Homo sapiens: one gene and its partners. The protein of the gene in region 3 interacts with the protein of the main gene of each other region in a pairwise test. Each region holds a gene or a part of one and is shown on either strand. Other genes may lie near its edges. The genes, in order: RSPH1, NFU1, MORN3 and HINFP.

Region 1 (7,058 bases), on a different chromosome or scaffold from region 3:
AGGTGCAGATGTCAGATACTTGAGTCTACACTTGCACAGAAAGGCATCCTTGCCTCAAAGCCATAGAAAGATTGGACCTGCCTGGCAGAGTTGGTAACTGGGCTTTTGTTATGATTCTGTTCCTCAGTAAGTGTAAACAATCTGCAGACATCATGTTCTCATTACATAAGCAAATCCCGTTAAGACCCAAGATAGAAACCGAACCTTTGATGAGCAAACCACTCTCCAGTGTAGGTGTCATTATTGATGTAGTAGTATACGCCATGGCCGTGCCGCAGGTCATTTGCCCACTCTCCTGAAAGGAACAACACAAAGGCAAGCCCAGGTGAGAAGAAGGGATCGATGCCCTGTACCATGTCTTCAAATTGTTAACCATGGCAAAGGCAGATGTGTTGTGAAGCAAATGAAGCCCATGCACACACAGGCCCCTTCTGCTCAGGAAATCCTGCAGAAGAGAGATTTTTAACAGCACCGACCAAGGCTGCTATCTGTTTCCACTCTGACATCCCTCCACCCCTTCCTTTTGTGCCAGATGGCATAGGTGCTGAGCCACGGTGGACAGTGGGCTAAGAGAGGGCTGAGTCAGGAGTTCACGGGGTACAGAGTGAGGTGTATGGATGTGGGCCACAGCCACCTGCATGTACTGACAAGCACATTTCACAGGTTAGTCAGAGGCACCACGAAGATGCAACGAGGAGGGAGACAAACCAAGGTTGTCTGACCCATTGCCAGTGATCCTAACACCACACTTCATTTACCTTGCAAATGTTTAGAGATCCAGCAACAACTCCAGGGCTTGACCATCTATCCTCAGCCACCTGGCAGCATTTCAGTCTATCTCCCACCCAATCATCTGACTCCAACATGCCACTCTAACCCCAGCTGCACACCAGCTCCATCCGCTGGTGCCATGCCTCTGTTTGAACTCTTCCCTCACCTCCTCACCTCCATACGGCTTCTGCTAAGTCCTTATAGGCTTGGTAGGCAGTACTGAAATTGGCAAGGATATCATAAAATTCATAATACCACTCCATGATGTGGACAACTGCAAACTACTTTTGTCAACCACAGTATGAATCCCTGCACTAGAAAACTCAAAACGTCCTCAAATCTTACAGCTCACTTAGGAAAGAAACTTAATAGAGGTCTCCCAAAGGTGACTGCTCTTAAAAACGTGCATATTACACCAAGTCATTAAGCTAAATGATATGTTTTGAGACTATGAATAATAAAAAGCAAATGTTGATCAATTTGTTGATCAAAGAGAAAAGAAGGAATTATATTTCTATTCTCTCTATAGAAAACATTACAAAATGGTTGCCATATGGAGAAGCATTCAAAGAGTATTAGCTAACAAAGGTAGAGAAAAGCTATTCTAGAAGTATGTCAGACATTAAAACTCAGGCTACTTAGATTCTGTGATGTTTGTGGTATTTTTAAATTTTTAACTTATTTTGATTTATCATTGCAAATGAAAATTCACTTTTATACCAACTTTATATTTTCTTTTTTTTAAAGAGGTTCTCAAAACTTACATAAGCTTCTGGCTTACACAAAAACTGGACCCACTTCCACATGAAGATAAAGAATACCCAATAGGCTAAGAAAATGCTAATTATTCAAGTAATATTTGTTTATGTGAATAACCCCAAAATTTATCTGCAGAAGGAACTTCTACATATTTATTTCCTCAATCATCCCATTATTTACTCAGCACCTACAATGTCCTGGGCACTTTGTGAGATGAACGAAGAGCTGTACAAAGGACAGTGCATGTCCCCAGGGCGCGAGCACCAGCCTGAGGATGGAAGGTTGGCACCTGAGCAGCAGCTGAGGACAGGGAAGGCAGCACGAAAAGCTGCATGGCACAATTTCAAAAAGTGGGTAAGTCATTCAGAAAAGAGCAGGCTTACCAAAAATTCATGGAGAGAGGGAAGGTGGCAACTGCTAACAATTAAGGAAGAGGACTAGGTCCCATGATGTGATGTGTGACAGGAACAATGTGAACAAGAGAGATGAAGATCCCCAAATTGAGATAATTCAGTAAAAAATACTTCAGGTCCCTGAACCTAAATTAACCATGAGGATGTGCAAATACCTAGAGGGATTTGTCTGGGTCTTAAGGGGCAGTGATGTGCCTGGATTTGTAACATTTGCCAGGTTCTGTGGTGTAAATACTCACACCGCGGCCAATTTCAAGCTACACATGGAGCTGGGAAGAGATGCACAGAATGGGTTTTTGTGAGCTACTATGAGGGGGTTCCAGCACAGCCCTGGGGCATAGAGACCTCAGCTGAAACAGGTACATCATTTGGTTTCTTCCCAACAAAACTTCATGACAAAATTATTACATCCCTCCTCTCTTGGCCATGTCAGAGGATCTCCAGGGTGTCATGGTGAGAAAAATATATTACATATTTTGCAGAAAAATTTCAAAAATAAAAGAGAACAGTTAAGTTGCAAAAGACACTAAATTTTGCACCAAGAGGACGGTGAGCAAAATTTTTTAAAGTCCCAATCTACTTAAAAAACCTGTTAAGAGGCTCGGCCCAGCATTTTGTAATGCCACCACAGGGACCCTGCACAAATAGAGAAGGTAATTCAGAGAAAAGTCACCTGCTGAGGCACATCTCTAACAGCTATAAGTCAAGTTTCCTTTTTTGAGGTGAGTGACATTTGTAAACTTTATTATTGTGGCTTTAAATTTGCACTTAATTTTTTTTTTAAAGTCTTTCTACCCCAATCCTATACTTTCTGATCATTCTTGAACTTGTCAACTGAGGTTTTTTCCAACTATATTTCTTCTCAGGAGTAACTCCCAGTTGGTTGGTTGGTTGGTTGGTTGGTTGATTTGTTGGTTAACTGGTTGGTTGGTTGGTTGGCTGGTTGGCTGGTTGGTTAGTTGGCTAACCGATTGGTTGGTTGGTTGGTTGGCTGGCTGGTTGGTTGGTTAACTGGTTGGCTGGGTGGTTGGCTAGTCAGTTGGCTGGTTGGTTGATTGGTTGGCTGTTTGGTTGGCTGGTTCGTTGGTTGTTTGGTTGGTTGGCTAGTCAGTTGACTGGTTTGTTGATTGGTTAGCTGTTTGGTTGGCTGGTTGGCTGGTTGGTTGGTTGGTTGGTTGGTTGGCTGGTTGGCTAATTGGTTGGTTGGTTAGACAGTTGGTTGGTTAATTGGTTGGTTGATTGGTTGCTTGGTTGGCTAGTCAGTTGGCTGGTTGGTTGATTGGTTGGCTGTTTGATTGGCTGGTTGTGGGTCAGTTGGCTGGTGTGGAGCAGGTGCTCCTTGGGTAGAGCAGTTTGTCTGGCACTTGGGATTGAAGACAATTTAAAATGAGAAGCTCTCCAAGATGCTCCTCCCCCCTCAAATGCTGGTTGGTCACTGGTTTGCCATGCTGGCCCATGGTCTTGCCAAGTTGGCTCCCTAAACTGCTGGGTCAGCCAAACACAGGAGAGAAGGAGCCCACACTTATGGGGAAACACTCGGTGTCAGACCCTGGGCAGGGTTCCGTGCACTTGCCACAGCATTTGGTATGTGTAATCGCTGAAATATGGTTTTACAGATGCAGAACCTGAAAAGCAGAGAGACTGCATGCATTCCCCAAGGTCCCACAGCTGGTGGGTAGCAAGACTGAAATGAAAATTGGAGTCTGTCTAACACCATGCTCTCTTCTCCACAAGCATCCCAACAGTCAAGTGCTCATTTTTTCCAGCTCCTGCCATTCGGGGGCTTCCAAAAAACCCAGGTTCAAGTTATCATGTCATTCTTCTTTCTCCACAATGTCATTCTTAAACTTCTTTGTTTTGATGAGTTCTGTTTGACAGGCAACAAGGCCAGCAGGGAATAGGGATGCTCTTTCTCCCCCTTAACCTCAGAGTCCTCAGTTGGCCCTACACCCCCAACCCTCAGCATCAGTACATGGGGTCTAGGCCTCCCCCACATCTGGCACCCACCCTCCCCTCCATCTCATCCCCCACTACCCCTAAAAACCTCGGCCTTCCTGCCTGTATCCAAGTCACCCGCCACCCAGGACCGTCTCCCCACTCCTCTCCTGCAGCACTATAGCCTCTGCTGGCTCCTGGACTCCCTAATTGGACTTGTGTGACCATCTGGGAGACAGGTAGGGTACTGGACTTTATGCCACAGGGTCCTGACGTTGAACACACTGCCCTGCACAAAACCATTCTGGCCCATTGTGATGGCAGCCAGCCAAGATACACTGTTATGAATAACTCAGCCATACATTAACTGAGATTTTGTGATTGGAAGAGTATTGGCTTACTATGTTATAATTAATATTATAACTTCTGACCTCAGTTTCCATTGCTGCCTTCATGAAGTAAGACACTTATTTAAGCTTTTGTCAGAGAAGAAATCTCTGGGTAGTGGCTAAATCTTGCACCCTTTAAGATACAAAGCCATCTGGAGAATCAAAAATCCCAACTGTTACCAGAAGAGCTTTATATGTTAGTGTGGCATAATAAGAAATATTGGTCTTTATTCATGGTTCCCAGCACAGAGCTCCTAAAACCCTTGACATTTCCTGACTGATAGAAATGTTTTTGTTATTCAAAATGAGACTCTTTTGACCACACCTGAACTTATGCAAATGAGGCCCAGGATGGCCTCAAGATGGGACTGAACACCAGAAAGACCAAGTGATAAGAAGGATAGAACCTCCAGCCCCACCCACCAACTTTTGGTAAAGAAGAAGGAAGGGGCCAGAGATTAAGCTCTGTAAAAACTCTTGAGCAAGATTTGTTGAGCTTCTGGGGTGATAAACATATCATGTGCCAGGAGGGTGGTGCACTCCACCTCCACAAGGACAGAAGCTCCTGTGCTTGGGAACCTTCCAGGCCTTGCCCTCTGTACCTCTGAATCTGGCTGTTCATCCATATTCTTTATAATATCCTTTACAGTAAACATGAGTAAAGTGCTTTCCTGAGTCCTATGAGCCGCTATGGCACATTATCAAACCTGAGTAGGGTGTTGTAGGAACCCCCAATTTGTAGCCGAGTCAGGTAGAACTGTGGGTACCCTCCGGATCCACAACTTGAGGTTGACATCTGAAGTGGGGCAGTCTTGGAAACTGAGCCCTTAACCTGTGGGGTCTGTGCTAACTCTGGGTGGTGTCAGAATGGAGTTGCATCATTGGAAACTCAGTTGGTGTTCACAGAAGACTGGAGAAGTACATAGCATGGAAAATCCATGCATTTGGTGTCAGAGAAACAGTTACCCATTTTTAACCTTCATATTCAAAATTCCTTAAATCCCTTATCCTAAATATCTTCGTGTGTGTGTGTGTTGTTCAAATTGTATCAACATCTACACTAAAATCAAAAGTGACAAGAATGAGATTAGGTGCATAAGGATTTGGAAAGAATTAAATTAAGCCCCAAATTAAATTGTTTAAAGTTGATTTAAAAAGCAGATGGTGCTTCTTATAGAGCAAGCCTTCTGGGATTTATGAAACAAAACAAAACAATTTCTATCTAACAGGGATGGTATTAAAACCCTCCATCTTGGTCTCAGAATTGGACAGAATCATCACTGACATCTATTAAAATAAGAACCACCTACTGGTTCTTATTTTATCTAGGAGCAAAGCAAGCAACTATAGCTCGCACTTTGTAAGAATATGTCCTCCTCACTAAGAAGTGATGCTGTCACAAGTGGTACATCACAGTCCTAGCCCCAGTTACTGAGTGCTCACTATGGATCAGGCAAGGTTGCAGGTGTCTCCCTGTGTTTATCCATTGAATCTTCATGCTACAGATGAGAAACTGAGGCAAGGAGATGTGAAGTCACCTATGCAAGCTCACACCTATTGTCACCAGAGTCCAAGGTTAGGGTCACAGATCTTTTTGGAAATCTGAAGAAAACTAGACAATTTCTTTCTTCCTAGGGAAAAAACAAAAAGCCCAGAACACAGAATTTTATATACACTTTCTGAAGACTCACAACACGCTCCCTGCCGGTCCCCCTGCCCAGGTTTGGGATATCACTAATGTGGTCACACCAGGTGACAACGGCACAAGGGGCGGCAGGGAGGTTCTTGGAAATAAAGGAAAAAGAATCCTCCTCAAACATAACATTGGCCTGTAAGGACTTATGGCACAGGTAGGAAAAGTCAGTTTAACAAGGCAGGAAGACTCCCAGACAGGAAGCCCTGATGTAAGGAAACACTCGATCTGAAGAAATAACACATCCGTCAGATGGCGGGGTTGGTCAGAAATGGAAAATGCAAAGACAGGTTCAGGAAGATGAATGCCGCAGAGCAGCTGAAGCCGTGGGTCCACCAGCTGCGAGGCCTGCGTCCACTCAGGAGCCTCCCTTTTGTCTGCTCCCAGGACATGGACATGCTGGCCACAGGGACAGATTTCCCACTACAGATTCATTAGTGAGTTAATTAATTACAAGGCTTTCCTATTTCTGCATCAACACTGTGAATATAGTAACACGATCTGTGTTCGTTGAATGAGTAACTGGAGAACTTTAAGCTTTCTCATACATGTCAGTATTCACAGACAAGTTCAGTCATAAAGAAAGAAAAACTTCTGTAACACGAAAATCTGCTTAGTGATAACATTTTACCTTCATATCTGGATCCATCTGGATATATAAAAGTGCCTTGACCGTGCTTTTTATTTCTAACATATTCTCCGATATATCGAGCACCATTTTTAAATTTGTAGATCCCCTGAAACACATTGATTATATCATTCATATCATTGCTGAATGTAGCATTTGCTAACAGAGTATTAAATAGAGAAAACCATCCAGTCAAGTCAACGGTTCTGACCTGGCCATGTCTTTTACCGAATTCGTAGCTCCCTTCGTAGGTGTCCCCGTTGGGTAGCCGTGCCCTCCCACGTCCGTGCCTTTCGCCTGCCTCATTCCGACCCCCCTCATATTCCTGGGTAATGAAAATTGACACAATTACAGCTACCATTCATTAAGCGCTAACCAGGTGCTAAGCATTTTGTAAATATCATACCCTTGAGTCATCCCACTATGCTAAACCCCCGGCACTATACTCAATTGTCCCACCTTTCCCACCT
Region 2 (3,868 bases), on a different chromosome or scaffold from region 3:
TTTTAGTGGAGACGGGGTTTCACCATGTTGTTCAGGCTGGTCTCAAACTCCTGACCTCGTGATCTGCCCACCTCGGCCTCCCAAAGTGCTGGGATTATAGGCGTTAGCCACCATACCCGGACATTTTTGATTTCTTTTTTTTGGTCTTAAGCAGTTCTTTGCTACTTAATTGGGGGCTAGTAGCCAGATACCATTTTTAAAACAGACTTGTTTAGCTGTTTCTTAAGCTAAAAACTTCAGTAAAAATAGTTTTAGATATTTCACAAAAAGCTATTTTAGAATATTCTAAAAAGCATTCTGTTTCTTCCTGTATGGAAAAAAGTAAATAAATTAGATGGGGGGAAATGTATTTTAAACTCCTTCACACATATGCAAAGAAAGAGCCATGGGAAATGAGGGACAAAAATAAAAATATCCTTGGATAAAATCCACGTGTACAGAAGATGATTCAAGAGGTTATAAATAACTCATATGAGGTAAAGCAAACATGCAATATTTATATATCATTCTCTGAAGAGCATATTTTATTAATCTTCAAGTTCCTCAGCATATTAATAATAAAAACTTGATATATATTATCAACAAGTCTGACTGTTATGCCCAAAGAAAATCCAGATTATTTTAAGGTGAGTTTGCTTCTTTTTCATCTGATTCATCATCCATAACCTAAAACCAAAAAACAAAGACAATTTAAGAATTAAGAAAATGATTAGATTTTGCTGTTTTCCTGATTTTAATATTACTTCTTTACCTGATACACTCTATAATGAGGCATGACAAGCCAGTAAGAATAAATCTATCAACAGCCCCAAAGAACAAGGTTTGAATCATAACCCGGTATCCTAAAAACATAAAAGCAACCCCATCTCTACTGAAAATACAAAAAATTAGCCAGGCGGGCGCCTGTAGTCCCAGCTACTCGGGAGGCTGAGGCAGGAGGATGGCGTGAACCTGGGAAGCAGAGCTTGCAGTGAGCCGAGATCGCGCCACTGCACTCCAGCGTGGGCAACACAGCGAGACTCTGTCTCAAAAAAAAAATAAAATAAAATAAAAGCAAATTAAATATTTGGAAATTAATTAAAGCATTGATCACTTCTCCTTGTCTCAAAGAGGCTACCCATAGCAGAGTCTCAGCTGGGCAGAAAAGACTATAAATAATTAACTGGGGCCAGGCGCGGTGGCTCACGCCTGTAATCCCAGCACTTTGGGAGGCTGAGGCAGGCAGATCATGAGGGCAGAAGATCAAGACCATCCTGGCTAACACAGTGAAACCCCGTCTCTACTAAAAATACAAAAAATTAGCCGGTCGTGGTGGTGGGCGCCTGTAGTCCCAGGTACCCGGGAGACTAAGGCAGGAGAATGGCATGAACTGGGGAGGTGGAGGTTGCAGTGAGCCTAGTGCCTGGTGATAGAGCACTCCAGCTTGGTGATAGAGCAAGACTCCGTCTCAAAAAAAAAAAAACAATTTAACTGGTATTCTCTAGCCATAAGACTAATGTAAATGACTTTTTCTTTTTTTCAAAACCATCTTATTTACTTAAATATATTCTGTGAAGCTATACCAAATTGTTATTTTAAAAACATTTATTTTTATTAAAATGAATCCCCAAGGAAAGTGAAAAACAAAACAAAACAAAAAAACCCCACCATATTAGGAACTAATTATTTTAGTCTTACTGAGATAAAAGATCATTTTAAGCCTCAGGAAAATGTTACAACAGCTATTATCTTTCCATGAGTTAATGTATTACTAAGATAACAGACTAACTCCATTGGAGAAGGAAAAAGTTACATAAACCTAAGAATGTTTTTTTCTCCTCACCACACCTACTACAATTAGATGCCAATTCAAGTTTCTAATCTGAAGGCCAATTCATCACCCTACCCTGGACAATTGAATAAAAATGTTCCTCAGTCAATCCACCAAAGTATCAACTAACATAATTTTTTAAGGCATATAGATGATAATGGAACAAAGTAAGGTTTTTTTTTTTAAAAAAAATCTAGGCCAGGCACAGTGGCTCATGCCTGTAATCCCAGCACTTTGGGAGGCTGAGGCAGGTGGATCACCTGAGGTCAAGAGTTCAAGACCAGCCCGGTCAACATGGCGAAACCCCCATCTCTACTAAAAATATAAAAATTAGCCAGGCGTGGTGGCGCGCGCCTGTAATCCCAGCTACCTGGGAAGCTAAGGCAGGAGAATCATTTGAACTCGGGAGGTGGAGGCTGCAGTGAGCCAAGATCAAGCCATTGTACTCCAGCCTGGGCAACAAGAGTGAAACTACGTCTCAAAAAAAAAAAAAAAAAAAATCCAGATTCTGGCTCTGATCTGAGACAATCAATAGAAAAAGAATTCTTTCATAGGCTGTCTTTTTGGTTGAGTAAAAATTGGTATTTATTCCCAAGAAATTAATATTTTACATCCAATTTCAACAATACCCAATCCAAAAAATTTTGTCAACCAACTCATATTTTAGGCAGAATTATTCCTTAATTTGGAATAATATTCCCAAATACTTAATACAAAGCATGTATAGGACATTTGTAAGGCACACAGCTAGTTGTTGCAGAGGAACACAAAGACTTGGATATGATTTCAAGTCTCTTAGGGAGCTTCCACGTAAACATAAAGCTAAAACAGATACAGAAAGCTACATAAACATAAAGCAAAAACAGAAGCTTTGGACCTGTCAAAGAAGAACTTAATTCCAAGTGGGGGATGGATAAAAACTTCAAAGAGAAGATGTCATGTACTGGACCAAAACGATGGTGTGGAGGCTAAAGCAACTCCATCTTGGATGCTAATCTGCCACATTGACTACCCTCAGTTCTAGGAATGCCTCTAAGTTTTCTACTTAATTCTGCCTTTAGGTCAAAATAATCTTGATGTTATCCTAAACAAACACATACTTAGCATAAATCTTGCCCTTAAGCAAATTATAGGCTATTAGGCAAATAGCATTCTTGCCTTTTCCAGAGGGGCTGACTTCAATTGTCCTACACATATCTTCTGAAGCATGTATACCCATTCCTCCTGGTATATAAGCCCTGAGTCTAGCGGGTAACAATGCAGGAATCCATCATCTTGCAGCTGCCCGATAAATGGCTTCTGTTCCTCAGTCCCTATTAAATGTTTCTTTCTGACCAACTGGATTTGCCAGCCTCTGTCTTCAGCCTCTCAGCTCCCTAAGACTTTGGGGATAGGTCTATATAGACCTGCTCACTGTGGAACAGATGAATTTTAATACTACCCAAGGATGAGTGATTCCCAATGGAGCCCTTAAGGGCACAGAATTACCTGAGGTGGTCAGGCACGGTGGCTCATGCCTGTAATCCTAGCACTCTGGGAGGCCGAGGCGGGCAAATTGCCTGAGCTCAGGAGTTTGAAATCAGCCTGGGCAACATGATGAAACCCCGTCTCTACTAAAATACAAAATACAAAAAATGGTGGCATGTGCCTGTAATCCCAGCTACTCATGAGGCTGAGGGATGGGAACTGCTTCAACCTGGGAGGTGGAGGTTGCAGTGAGCCGAGATAGCGTGTCACTGCACTCCAGCCTGGGCAACAGAACAAGATTCTGTCTCCAAAAAAAAAAAAAAAAAGAATGAATTACCTGAAATTCTGTGGGTTGGAAATTTCTAATTTCCACACATCCCTTCACTCCTTGATAATCTCTCTCCATAAGGCCATGCTTTTTGGTTGAGAATCACTGCAGTGAGACTCATTATTACTGATGACAAGGTGCTGTGTTATACTCCTTAGGTATGTTGGCAAAAAAAAAAATGTTGATATTGTGCTACACGTAAAGCTCTAGAATTCTACTCAGTATAACAACAAACTATGATTTCTTAATGGGCTTCTTGCTTG
Region 3 (4,413 bases):
TCCTGGGGTCTCCAAAGGGCTTGGGGTCGGGGAGTGGGGGAGCAAGACCATCGAGGGCAGGCTTCTTGCCTCCTACAGTCCCAGGTGTCCTTTTTGACGCTTCCTCTTCAAAACCCCTTTTGACCGGCTGTGGTGGCTCTTGCCTTTAATCCCAGCACTTTGGGAGGCCAAGGCAGGCGGATAAGTTGAGGTCAGGAATTTGAGACCAGCCTGGCCAACATGGTGAAACCCCATCTCTACTAAAAATATAAAAGTTAGCCAGGTGTGGTGGCAGGCACCTGTAGTCCCAGCTACTCGAGAGGCTGAGGCAGGGGAATCACTTGAACCCGGGAGGTGAAGGTTGCAGTGAGCTGAGATTGCACCACTGCACTCCAGCCTGGGCGACAGAATGGGACTCTGTCTCAAAAAAAACAAAACTCGCCAGGCACAGTAATCCTATAATCCTGTAATCCCAGCACTTTGGGAGGCCGAGGTGGGTGGATCACGAGGTCAGGAGTTCAAGACTAGCTTGGCCAAGATGGTGAAACCCCATCTGTACTAAAAACACAAAAATTAGCTGGGCGTGGGGGAGGGCACCTGTAATTCCAGCTACTCAGGAGGCTGAGGCAGAGAATTGCTTGAACCTGGGAGGCAGAGGTTGCAGTGAGCTGAGACTGTGCCACTGCACTCCAGTCTGGGTGAGACTGTGTCTCAAAAAACAAACAAACAAACAAATAAACAAACAAACAAACCATTTCACTGAAGACCAGTGCATTCCAGTCCTGCCTGAAACCTTCTATTTGCACCCTGGGCCACACAACTGAGCTGGGCACGGGGTTGAAAGGAGGTGGTCTCCTGGCTTCTGAACACCCTTGAGTAAGGCAGTTGGCCTTCAGCCTCCATTTACACATCTGTCCAGTGGGGTCTTGTCCAGTCCAAGTCCTCCTGGGCATGATGTGAGGGTTTGAGGAGAGGACATTGGTAACAGCGTCTTTCAAATGCCAGCTCCACCATCCCTCTCTCCCCTGCAGAGAACACAAACGCTTCAGGAGAAATTCAAGCCTGTGTCACCCGATCGCTCAGACCAGTGCGGCTCTGGCTGGAGGAGTCAGCAGCAGCTCCAGGCATGACCCCGGCACCCTCATAGGGCCCCTCACTACCCCCAGCACTGGGTCATTTCTTGCCAATAGGAAGGCTGGTGCTTCTCTCCCAGGCTGTCCTCGGGACCCTCTTCATTCTCTGATCTCATCCTGGAATGCATGAGAATAAAGAATAACCAAGTGGTATAAGCCTGGGCCTATGGGATAAGGATGGGGCACTCGAGGGGGCTCAGCAGGGCTTTCAGGTTTAGAAGAGGGAAGACCTGCCTTGGCTGGGCTGCCTGGGTTTAGCTTGGGGGAGTAAGGGCAGGTCTTAGGCCGGGTGCAGTGGCTCATTCCTGTAATCCCAGAACTTGGGAGGCCAAGGTAAGAGGACTGCCTGAGGCCAGGAGTTCGAGACCAGCTTAGGCAACATAGCAAGACCCTGACTCTACAAAAAAAAATTTTAAAATATAAAAGAAAGGAAAAGAAAAAGAGAAAGAAATGGCAGGTCCCCTGTGAGATAACCCAGATGACCCAGAGAGAAGGCCTGTATCCTGCCACACTGGCTGCCAAGATTGGAGATCATAAAATTTCCTGACCACTTCTCAGCCTAACACAGGGCTCTCAACCTTGAAATCCCATGGAAACTTTGCAAAGCTGTGGAAGCCCAGGTCCCATGCCCAGAGATTCACAGGTTCACATCTAATTCATCTGGGGTGAGGCCTGAGCTTTCAGAAAATTCCCCAGGTGATTTTTTTTTTTTAAGACGTAGTCTCCCTCTATTGCCCAGGCTGGAATGCAGTGGCGCGATCTCAGCTCACTGCAACCTCTGCCTCCCATGTTCAAGCGATTCTCCTACCTCAGCCTCCTGAGTAGCTGGGATTACAGGCGCATGCCACTGAGCCCAGCTAATTTTTGTATTTTTAGTAGAGATGGGGTATCACCATGTTGGTCAGGCTGGTCTTGAACTCCTGACCTCGTGATCTGCCCCGCTCAGTCTCCTAAAGTGCTGGGATTACAGGTGTGAGCCATCGAGCCTGGCCTTTTTTTTTTTTTTTTTTTTTTTTTTGAGACAGAGTCTTGCTCTGTCACCCAGGCTGGAGTGCAGTGGCACAATCTCGGCTCACTGCAACCTCGCCTCCCTGGTTCAAGCGATTATCCTGCCTCAGCCTCCCAAGTAGCTGGGATTACAGGCACCTGCCACCAAGGCTAATTTTTTGTATTTTTAGTAGAGACAGGGTTTCACCATGTTGGCCAGGACGGTCTCGATCTCCTGACCTCGTGATCTGCCCGCCTTGGACTCCCAAAGTGCTGGGATTACAGGTGTGAGCCACTGCTCCCAGCCAAGATCAGATGTTCTTGCATAATGGGCAGGTGAGCTCTGGAGTCACAGTGCCTGGGCGTGAATCTCGGAGCTGTGTGTTCTCAGGAATGTCACCCAAACTCTGTTCTGTTGGTCTCCTCACTTGCAATATGGGGCATTAACAGTACTTACCACCTGGGGTTACTGTGGTTAGTTACTGTGAGGATGAGATAAGGCGGTGGTTTTAAACTGTGGGTAGGATTTTGTCCTCCCTCAGCCCCACTCTTTCTTGGGGACATTTGGCAATGTATGACATTTTTGATGTCACAACAGGCAGGAAGAAGGCTACTGGCATTGAGTGAGTAGAGACCAGGGATGCGGTTAAGCATAGTGCAATATCACCATGCTACAAAAAAAAAAAAAAAAAAGAATTCAGCACCTGTAATCCCAACTACTTGGGAGGCTGAGGCAGGAGAATTGCTTGAACCTGGGTGGCAGAGGTTGCAGTGAGCCGAGATTGCGCCATTGCACTCCAGCCTGGGCGACAGAGCGAGACACCATCTCCAAAAAAAAAAAAAAAAAAAATGTTGAGAAACCCTGAAATACCACGATTCTAGCTAAGACCTCAGCAAGAGGCACATAGCACATAGTAAAGCCTCAATAAACACCACTGACCTTACTGAGGTTCTCTCTGCCCCCTAAGTCATAAGTAGGGTGGCCTCACCAAGGGTGTGGTTCTCAGTCTGTACCTCTGGCACTGGGAAGCCCCGCCTGGCCACCCTAGGATGCAGAATTAATCATAACTTCCAGATATGGAGCACTCACTCTATTCCAGGCCGTGTGCTGACAGCTTCGCAGCAAGCATTCTCTCCTGGCACTCCCCGACAACAGTGAGGTGTCTTGCTATTACTGCCATTTTAGAGGAGGAAACAGGTTCAGGGAGGATCACAAGTCATCAAGCTAGTACTGTGCTTAAACTTAGGTCTAGCTGTTCTTAATGTGCAGAAGAGTGTAAAGGGTTACCATTTTTAAAGAAAAAGTGGGGGCAGGGCATGGTGGCTCATGCCTGTAATCCTAGCACTTTGAGAGGCCGAGGCAGGCGGATCAAGAGGTCAGGAGTTCGAGACCAGCCTGACCAACATGGTGAAACCCTGTCTCTACTAAAAATACAAAAATTAGCTGGGTGTGGTGGAGTGCATCTATAATCCCAGCTACTCAGGAGGCTGAGGCAGGAGAATCACTTGAACCCAGGAGGCGGAGGTAGTGGTGAGCCAAGATCACGCCGAGCCGAGATCGTGCCGCTGCTCTCCAGCCTGGGCAACAGAGCGAGACTCCATCTCAAAAAAAAAAAAAATGTTGGAAGAGGGTGTGCTTGTTTATGTACAAAATGTCGCTAGATTTAAACACAATAAACTGGCAAAGATGGTTGTCTCTGGGGAGAATTGGGGACTTGGGAACAGGAGCTGAAGAACAACTTTTCAGTGTTGTGTTTGGAACCATGTGAATGTATTATGTATTCAAAATGTAAATAAAAATGAAGTTAAAGAGACTGTGCTCCTAACTAGGAGTGTTTGTCTAAGTTGCCTGGGTGTGAGAGCACCTGGGGTGCTTGTTAGAAATAGATTCCAAAGACACACCCAGACCTACTTAAATCAGAATCCTCCAAGGGCTTCGAAACCTGCATTTGACAAGCCTGGCTGATGAGTCGAGTCCCGGCCAGTTTAGGAACAAGAACCCAAGACAACAGGATCCTAGCCCAGAAATAATTCCAGCTGGATCTTGCATCCCTACAGAAGTAGGGAGGTGGCTGTCCTAGGGGAATACGTAAAAGATGTCCAGGACGGCCGGGTGCGGTAGCTCACGCCTGTAATCCCAGCACTTTGGGAGGCTGAGGCAGGTGGATCACCTGAGGTCAGGAGTTGGAAACCAGCCTGGCCAGTGTGGTGAAAGCCCATCTCTGCTAAAAATACAAAAATTAGCCGGGCGTGGTGGCTCATGCCTGTAGTCCCAGCTACTCGGGAGGCCGAGGCAGGAGAATCCCTTGAACCC
Region 4 (7,058 bases), on a different chromosome or scaffold from region 3:
CAAAGTATGCTTCTGGAACTGCTTGCATCACAACTGGGGTGCTGAGTTAAAAGGGCAGATTTCTAGGCTTAACTCCTGCCTTCCTGAATCCGAACTTCTCACGCAGGCGCTGGATAACTACATTCGTGTGCAGATCTAAAATTGAGAGCTACCTGGGCATGGTGGCTCACATCTATAATCCCAGCACTCTGGGAGGCTGAGGCGGGTGGATCACCTGAGGACAGGAGTTCGAGACCAGCCTGGCCATCATGGTGAAACTCTGTCTCTAGCAAAAATACAAAAATTAGCCAGGCGTGGTGACACACCTGTAATCCCAGCTACTCAGGAGGCTGAGGCAGGAGAATCTCTTGAACCCGGCAGGTGGAGGTTGCAGTGAGCTGAGATTGCGCCACTGCATTCCAGCCTGGGTAACAGCGAGACTCTGTCTCAAAAAATAAAAATAAAATGAAATAAAATTGAGAACCTTTAGTTTTTTGTTTGTGTGTGTGTGTGTGTTTTTTTTTTTTTTTTTTTTTGAGACAGAGTCTTACTCTGTTGCCCAGGCTGGAGTACAGTGGCACGATCTCGGCTCATTGCAGCTTCTGCCTTCCAAGTTCAAGCGATTCTCCTGCCTCAGCCTCCCGAGTAGCTGGGATTACAGGCTTGTGCCACCACGCCTGGCTAATTTTTGTATTTTTAGTAGAGACAGGGTTTCACCATGTTGGCCAGGCTGGTCTTGAACTCCTGACTTCAGATGATCCACCTGTCTTGGCCTCCCAGAGTGCTGGGATTAGAGGTGTGCACCAGTGCGCACAGCCGAGAACCTTCAGTTTCATGTTTATCTTTCTTCAATAAATATTTATTACAGACTGGGTGCAGTGGCTCATGCCTGTAACTCCAACACTTTGGGAGTCTGAGGCAGATGGGTTGCTTGAGTCCAAGAATTCGAGACCAGCCTGGGCAACATGGCAAAACCCTGTCACTACAAAAACAAAACAAAACAAAAATTAGACAGATGTGGTGGCGCATGCCTGTGGTCCCAGTTACTTGGGAGGCTGAGGTAGGAGGATCTCCTGAGCCTGGGGAGGTCGAAGCTTCAGTGAGCTGTGATTGTGCCACTGTACTCCAGCCTGGGTGACAGGGTGAGACTCTGTCTCAAGAAAAAAAATATTTATTACATGCCTAAGCATGCCTAGCAGTGTATAGACACCCAAGGTGCAGTATAAACTACACAGATACGGCTTTTTATGTTCAAATGGAATCTACATTTTAACAGAAGGTATTAGCAGAGTGGTGGAGTAAACCGTTGGATAGGTTAGGTAAAGGCAGATTGTATGGCACTGTGAAAGTCTGGCAGGGGACTTATGATTCAATAAGAAATAAGGAGCTTCTAGGCTCATCTGTAGGCTCTATGGAGTAGAACCGTATATGGACTAGAGTCAGCCCAACATGACCCTACCATTACCACTAGTGTGTGGCCGTGAGCAAGTCAGTTGACCTCTGGAACTTCAGGTGTTTATCTATAAATGAGGTTAAAAATAGCACCTACCAGCTGGGCGTGGTGGCTCACACCTATGATCCCAGCACTTTGGGAAGCCAAGGTGGGTGGATCACCTGAGGGCAGGAGTTTGAGACCAGCCTGACCAACATGGGGAAGAAACCCTGTCTCTACGAAAAATATAAAAATTAGCCAGGCGTGGTGGCGGGCGCCTGTAATCCCAGCTACTCAAGAGGCTGAGGCAGGAGAATCGCTTGAACCCGGGAGGCGGAGGTTGCAGTGAGCCAAAATCGAGCCATTGCACTCCAGCCTGGGAGATGAGCGAAACTCAATCTCAAAAAAAAAAAAAAAAAAAGCACCTACGGCAAAGGGTGGTGTTGGTAATTAAATGACATAATGCAAATAAAATGCTTACTGTGGTGCTTGACATATAGTAAGTGTGAAATTAAAAACAAAAAGATTTATTATCTTCATTTTGCAGATGAGAGTATTCAGAAGTTAAGTTCTTGACAAAGGTCATACAGCTAGTAGATGGTAGACAGTGGAGCCAGGATTTGAACCCTGATCCTTCTCAAAAGCCATCTGTTTGAACCTGAGCATTGTTCTGCCTCACAGAGGAATAATTCCTTCTTGGTGGGTTGCTCTGAAGCTTCATGAGAAAATGTCTGTTAAAGCGTTTAGCTCAGTGCCTGGCACACACTCAATAGTGTTAGTTTTTGTTTTCCCTTTCCACAAACACCAGACATCTTCCAGGGATTTAAGGAATTACTCCATCCTTACTGTAAAAGGGCAGGGTTTCTCATGGGTCACTGGAACAACACGTGCTGATTCTAGGCAGGCTGCCTGCCCAGCTTTTTGCCCTCAGCAGCACCTGGGTGGAATTCTTGCAGCTGTGGATTTCTTCCTCTTCCTCTAGGGTGAAGGCCATGCCGCCTCCTGGGAAAGTTCCCCGAAAGGAGAATCTGTGGCTACAGTGTGAGTGGGGGTCCTGCTCCTTTGTGTGCTCAACCATGGAAAAGTTCTTTGAGCATGTCACTCAGCACCTGCAGCAGCACCTGCATGGCTCTGGGGAGGAGGAGGAAGAGGAAGAGGAGGATGACCCACTTGGTAAGAGAGCAGGACACAGGAAGGGGAGGAGCTCAAGGAAAGGTGGAAAATCTGACTTTCTTTTCCTTAGAGGGAGAAGGCGGCCTAAGAGAATGGTGGTTTATTTTCCTAATTGTGTTTTTGTTGTATATAAAAACATTGTAAACTCATTTATAGAAAACTCAGTCAACAAGGATATAAGGAATAAATCTGCCATCCTGCCATCAAGAAGTAATTGCTGACAGTACTTTAGTGAACATTGTTTTTGACATCTCTCTGCCTGTGTTTACATATATTTAAATACAGATGAATGTGCTTTTTTTTAATCATTCTGTACAAGTTGTTGGCAACCTGTGTTTTGTTGTTGTGTTTTTTTTTTTTTTTTTTTTACTCTTCTAGTATTCCCAATTTTTTTTTTCTTTTACTGCAACCAGTCAGAAATACATCTTACTTTTTAGAGACAGGGCTTCATCTTGTCACCCAGGTTGGAGTCCAGTGTCATGATCATAGCTCACTGCAGCCTTCAACACTCAAGGGATCCTCCTGCCTCAACCTCCCGAGTAGTTAGGACTGCAGGCATGTACCACCACCACACGCCAATTTTTAAAAAAATTTTTTTTAGAGACAGGATCTTGCTTATGTTGCCCACTGATCTCAAACTCCTGGCCTCGAGCAATCCTCCTACCTTAGCCTCCTAAGTAGCTGGGACTATTGGCTTGTGCCACCAAGTCCAACCCCACTCCCACCTTCCAATTTTTTTTTTTTTTTTTGAGACGGAGTCTTGCTCTGTTGCCAGGTTGGAGTGCAATGGTTCGATCTCGGCTCACTGCAGCCTTTGCCTCCCAGGTTCAAGCAATTCTCCTGCCTCAGCCTCTTGTAGCTGGGACTACAGGCGCGCGCCACCACGCCCAACTAATTTTTGTACTTTTAGTAGAGATGGGGTTTCACCATGTTGGCCAGGATGGTCTCAATCTCTTGATCTCATGATCCGCCCACCTCGGCCTCCCAAAGTGCTGGGATTACAGGCGTGAGCCACCGCACCTGGCCCCATCTCTCACTTTTTAACCTTTGTCTGACTTATGTTTTAGGTATGCCTTTTATCAATAGCAAATAACTGGGATTTTAATAAAATCCAATCTGAAAACAATAACAATAGTGAACTGTATTCTATAGTACCTACTGTGTGTTAAGTATTGCTGGGTACTTTATTTTTTTTTTGAGATGGAGTCTCATTCTTGTTGCCCAGGCTGTAGTGCAGTGGTGCAATCTCGGCTCACTGCAACCTCTGCCTCCTCGGTTCAAGCGATTCTTCTGCCTCAGCCTCCCGAGTAGCTGGGATTACAGGTGCGTGCCACTACGCCCGTCTAATTTTTTTTTGTATTTTTAGTAGAGACAGGCTTTCACCATGTTAGCCAGGATGCCCCTGTTGGCCAGCCTGGTCTTGAACTCCTGACCTCAGGTGATCCGCCCGCCTCAGCCTCCCAAAGTGCTGGGATTATAGACGTGAGCCACCATGCCCGGCCAGTACTTTTTTAAACCTACATTAAAGCACTATTTCCCAAAGAGCCTATGAGATAGGCACTATTATTATTATTATTTATTATTATTATTTTTAGATGGAGTCTTGCTCTGTCGCCAGGCTGGAGTGTGGTGGTGCGATCTCAGCTCACTGCAACCTCCACCTCCCAGGTTCAAGCAATTCTACTGCCTCAGCCTCCCGAGTAGCTGGGATTACAGGCACATGCCACTATGCCCAGCTAATTTTTTTTTGTATTTTTAGTAGAGACGGGGTTTCACTGTGTTAGCCAGGATGGGATAGGCACTATTATTATACCCATTTTACAAATAAGGAAACGGAGGCACAGAGGAATAAAATAACTTGCCCAAAGTCACGGTACTAATAAGTGTGGCAGGATTTAAAAGAAAAAGGAAAAAAAAAACTTTTTTTCAGAGTAAGATGGAGTCTTACTCTGTTGCTCAGGCTAGAGTGCAATGGCATGATCTCGGCTAATTGCAACCTCCGCCTCCCGGGTTCAAGTGATTCTCCTGCTTCAGCCTCCCAAGTAGCTGAGATTACAGGTGCCCGCCACCACGCCCGGGTAATTTTTGTATTTTTAGTAGAGACAGGATTTCACCATATTGGCCAGGCTGGTCCCAAACTCCTGACCTTGTGATCTGCCTGCCTCGGCCTCCCAAAGTGTTGGGATTACAGGCGTGAGCCACTGCGCCCGACCAAAGCCACTTTTTTTTTAGAGACAGAGTCTTGCTATGTTACCAGGTTGATCTTAAACTCTTGGCCTCAAGTGATCCTCCTGCCTCAGCATGCTGAGCAGCTGGGACTATAAGCATAAGCCACTGCATCTGGCAGGAATACATTTTTCTTTTCTTTTTTTTTTTTTTTGTGGGAGTGCAGTGGCTCGATCTCCGCTCACTGCAAGGTCCGCCTCCCGGGTTCATGCCACTCTCCTGCCTCAGCCTCCCAAATAGCTGGGACTACAGGCGCCCACCACCAAGCCCAGCTAATTTTTTTTTGTATTTTTTAGTAGAGACGGGGTTTGACTGTGTTAGCCAGGATGGTCTCGATCTCCTGACCTCGTGATCTGTCTGCCTCGGCCTCCCAAAGTGCTGGGATTACAGGCGTGAGCCACCGCACCCGGCCCAAAATGTGGTTGATAGTTCACTGAACTGATTTCCTAACCCACTAGTGGGTCACAACACAGTCTGAAAAACTCTATTCTACAGGAAATATGGAGGCAGCTCTCCTTCTCCCACCCCAAATTCTGTTTTAAGTCTGATGACTATGAACCATAATTGATAGTTTCAAAATTCAAGTCATATTTATACAAAGGCAAAATTGGGGAATGATTATATTTTCTAAAGTATCTGTGTTTCAAAACAAGTTAACTTATATAAAGCGCTGAAAATACAGTGCTTAGGGATGCTAGAGAGATAGGAAATGGATTGGAAGAGTTGATGGGGCCTTCTTGGAGAAGGCAGATCTTGAGCAAAACATGAGGGGAAGGAGGAGTGGTGGTTTTACAAGGAGAAGTGGGAGGTGTCAGATCGAGAGGCAGCATCTTCATCAGGAACTGCAGAAACTCAAGTCAGAGGACTTGCGTGCCGGCCATTTCTGCTGTCTGTTTCTGGCATAGGCCTTGCACACACTCTCACCTCTGCCTAGACCACACTTCTTCACCTATTTACAGATACTCATCCATCGTACTTCAGAGTTCAACATGGGGACGTTTCTCAGAACACCATGTCAAATGACCTCTGTTTAATGCTTTTATAGCACCATGTATATCCCCGCTTTGTAACACTCATCACTGGTTGCAGTTTTATATTTATAGATCTGATTATTTGATGAATATGCTTTCTCCCTGACTGAAAGCTATGTGAGGGCAAGGAGTGGGACACTTTTTACTTGTTATAGTCCCTCTAACTGGCACACAATTTATGGTCATTAAATACTGGTATTTGCTAAATGAACCCTGGTAATTTGGTTAGAGTCCAGCCTCCTCACGAGTCCAGCCTCCTCACTCTCTGTTTAGTGCTGCAGGTGGAAGGTGACCTGAGCCTTGGAAAGTGTCAGACTCTTCCTTTTAAACCCCTTTCTACAGAGGAAGAATTCTCCTGCTTGTGGCAGGAATGTGGCTTTTGTTCTCTGGACAGTTCTGCTGACCTCATCCGCCATGTCTACTTCCACTGCTACCACACCAAGCTGAAACAGTGGGGGCTGCAGGCCTTGCAAAGCCAGGCTGACCTTGGCCCCTGCATCCTGGACTTCCAGAGCCGGAACGTCATCCCTGATATCCCTGACCACTTCCTGTGTCTGTGGGAGCACTGTGAGGTCAGCAGGCAGTGCCAGTAATTGGGGTGGAAGGAAGCTGGGGGTCTTAACTCTGATGCCTTGTCCCTTTCAGGGATGCCTTATATTTCCAAGATTCCTGCTAGTATCTCTCTTCCATTTCTTTTGCTCTTTTAAAATTTGTTTATTTTTTACACACAGGCTCTTGATCTGAAGCCCAGGCTAGAGTGCAGTGGTACAATCATAGCTCACTGTAACCTTGAACTCCTGGGCTCAAGCAATCCTCCCACCTCAGCCTCCCAAGTAGCTAGGACTACAGGCATGTACCACCATGCCCTGCTAACTTCTAAATTTTTTGTAGAGACAAGGTCTGGGTGTGTTGCCCAGGCCGGTCTCGAACTCTTGGCCTCAAGTGATTCTCCTGCCTCAGCCTCTCAAAGTGCTGGGATTACAGGGTTTAGCAACCGCACCCGGCCACTCCTCCATTTCTGTGCAGTGCCTTTCCTCAAAATTTCCCATCCCCATCAAGTTAATTTGGGAGAGAGCCAAGAATTCTTCGGGCACATAGGGGTGAGTCCCTCTACCCACCCTCAGTCCTCACCCCAAGTTGCCCCTGGCACAGAATTCCTTCGACAATCCTGAGTGGTTTTATCGGCATGTGGAAGCACACAGTCTGTGCTGTGAATA

What was found.
Region 1: the proteins of MORN3 (region 3) and RSPH1 interact in binary tests that used the Homo sapiens proteins (3 or more experiments, as listed by UniProt).
Region 2: the proteins of MORN3 (region 3) and NFU1 interact in binary tests that used the Homo sapiens proteins (3 or more experiments, as listed by UniProt).
Region 4: the proteins of MORN3 (region 3) and HINFP interact in binary tests that used the Homo sapiens proteins (3 or more experiments, as listed by UniProt).

The regions. Positions count from the first base shown.
Region 1 is NC_000021.9:42,486,167-42,493,224, forward strand, and holds part of RSPH1 (radial spoke head 1 homolog), read right to left. Parts: intron 6,914-7,058; coding exon 6,800-6,913; intron 6,698-6,799; coding exon 6,592-6,697; intron 296-6,591; coding exon 205-295; intron 1-204.
Region 2 is NC_000002.12:69,395,625-69,399,492, forward strand, and holds the end of NFU1 (NFU1 iron-sulfur cluster scaffold homolog, mitochondrial), read right to left. Parts: intron 667-3,868; coding exon 622-666; 3' UTR 502-621; downstream 1-501. UniProt on the Homo sapiens protein: Iron-sulfur cluster scaffold protein which can assemble [4Fe-4S] clusters and deliver them to target proteins.
Region 3 is NC_000012.12:121,648,242-121,652,654, reverse strand, and holds the end of MORN3 (MORN repeat-containing protein 3), read left to right. Parts: intron 1-1,010; 3' UTR 1,011-3,913; downstream 3,914-4,413. UniProt on the Homo sapiens protein: Assembles a suppression complex (suppresome) by tethering SIRT1 and MDM2 to regulate composite modifications of p53/TP53.
Region 4 is NC_000011.10:119,124,542-119,131,599, forward strand, and holds part of HINFP (histone H4 transcription factor), read left to right. Parts: intron 1-738; exon of another isoform or gene 739-1,226; coding exon of another isoform or gene 1,227-1,258; intron 1,259-2,393; coding exon of another isoform or gene 2,394-2,403; coding exon 2,404-2,584; intron 2,585-3,809; exon of another isoform or gene 3,810-3,907; intron 3,908-6,114; coding exon of another isoform or gene 6,115-6,183; coding exon 6,184-6,413; intron 6,414-6,993; coding exon 6,994-7,058. UniProt on the Homo sapiens protein: Transcriptional repressor that binds to the consensus sequence 5'-CGGACGTT-3' and to the RB1 promoter. Transcriptional activator that promotes histone H4 gene transcription at the G1/S phase transition in conjunction with NPAT.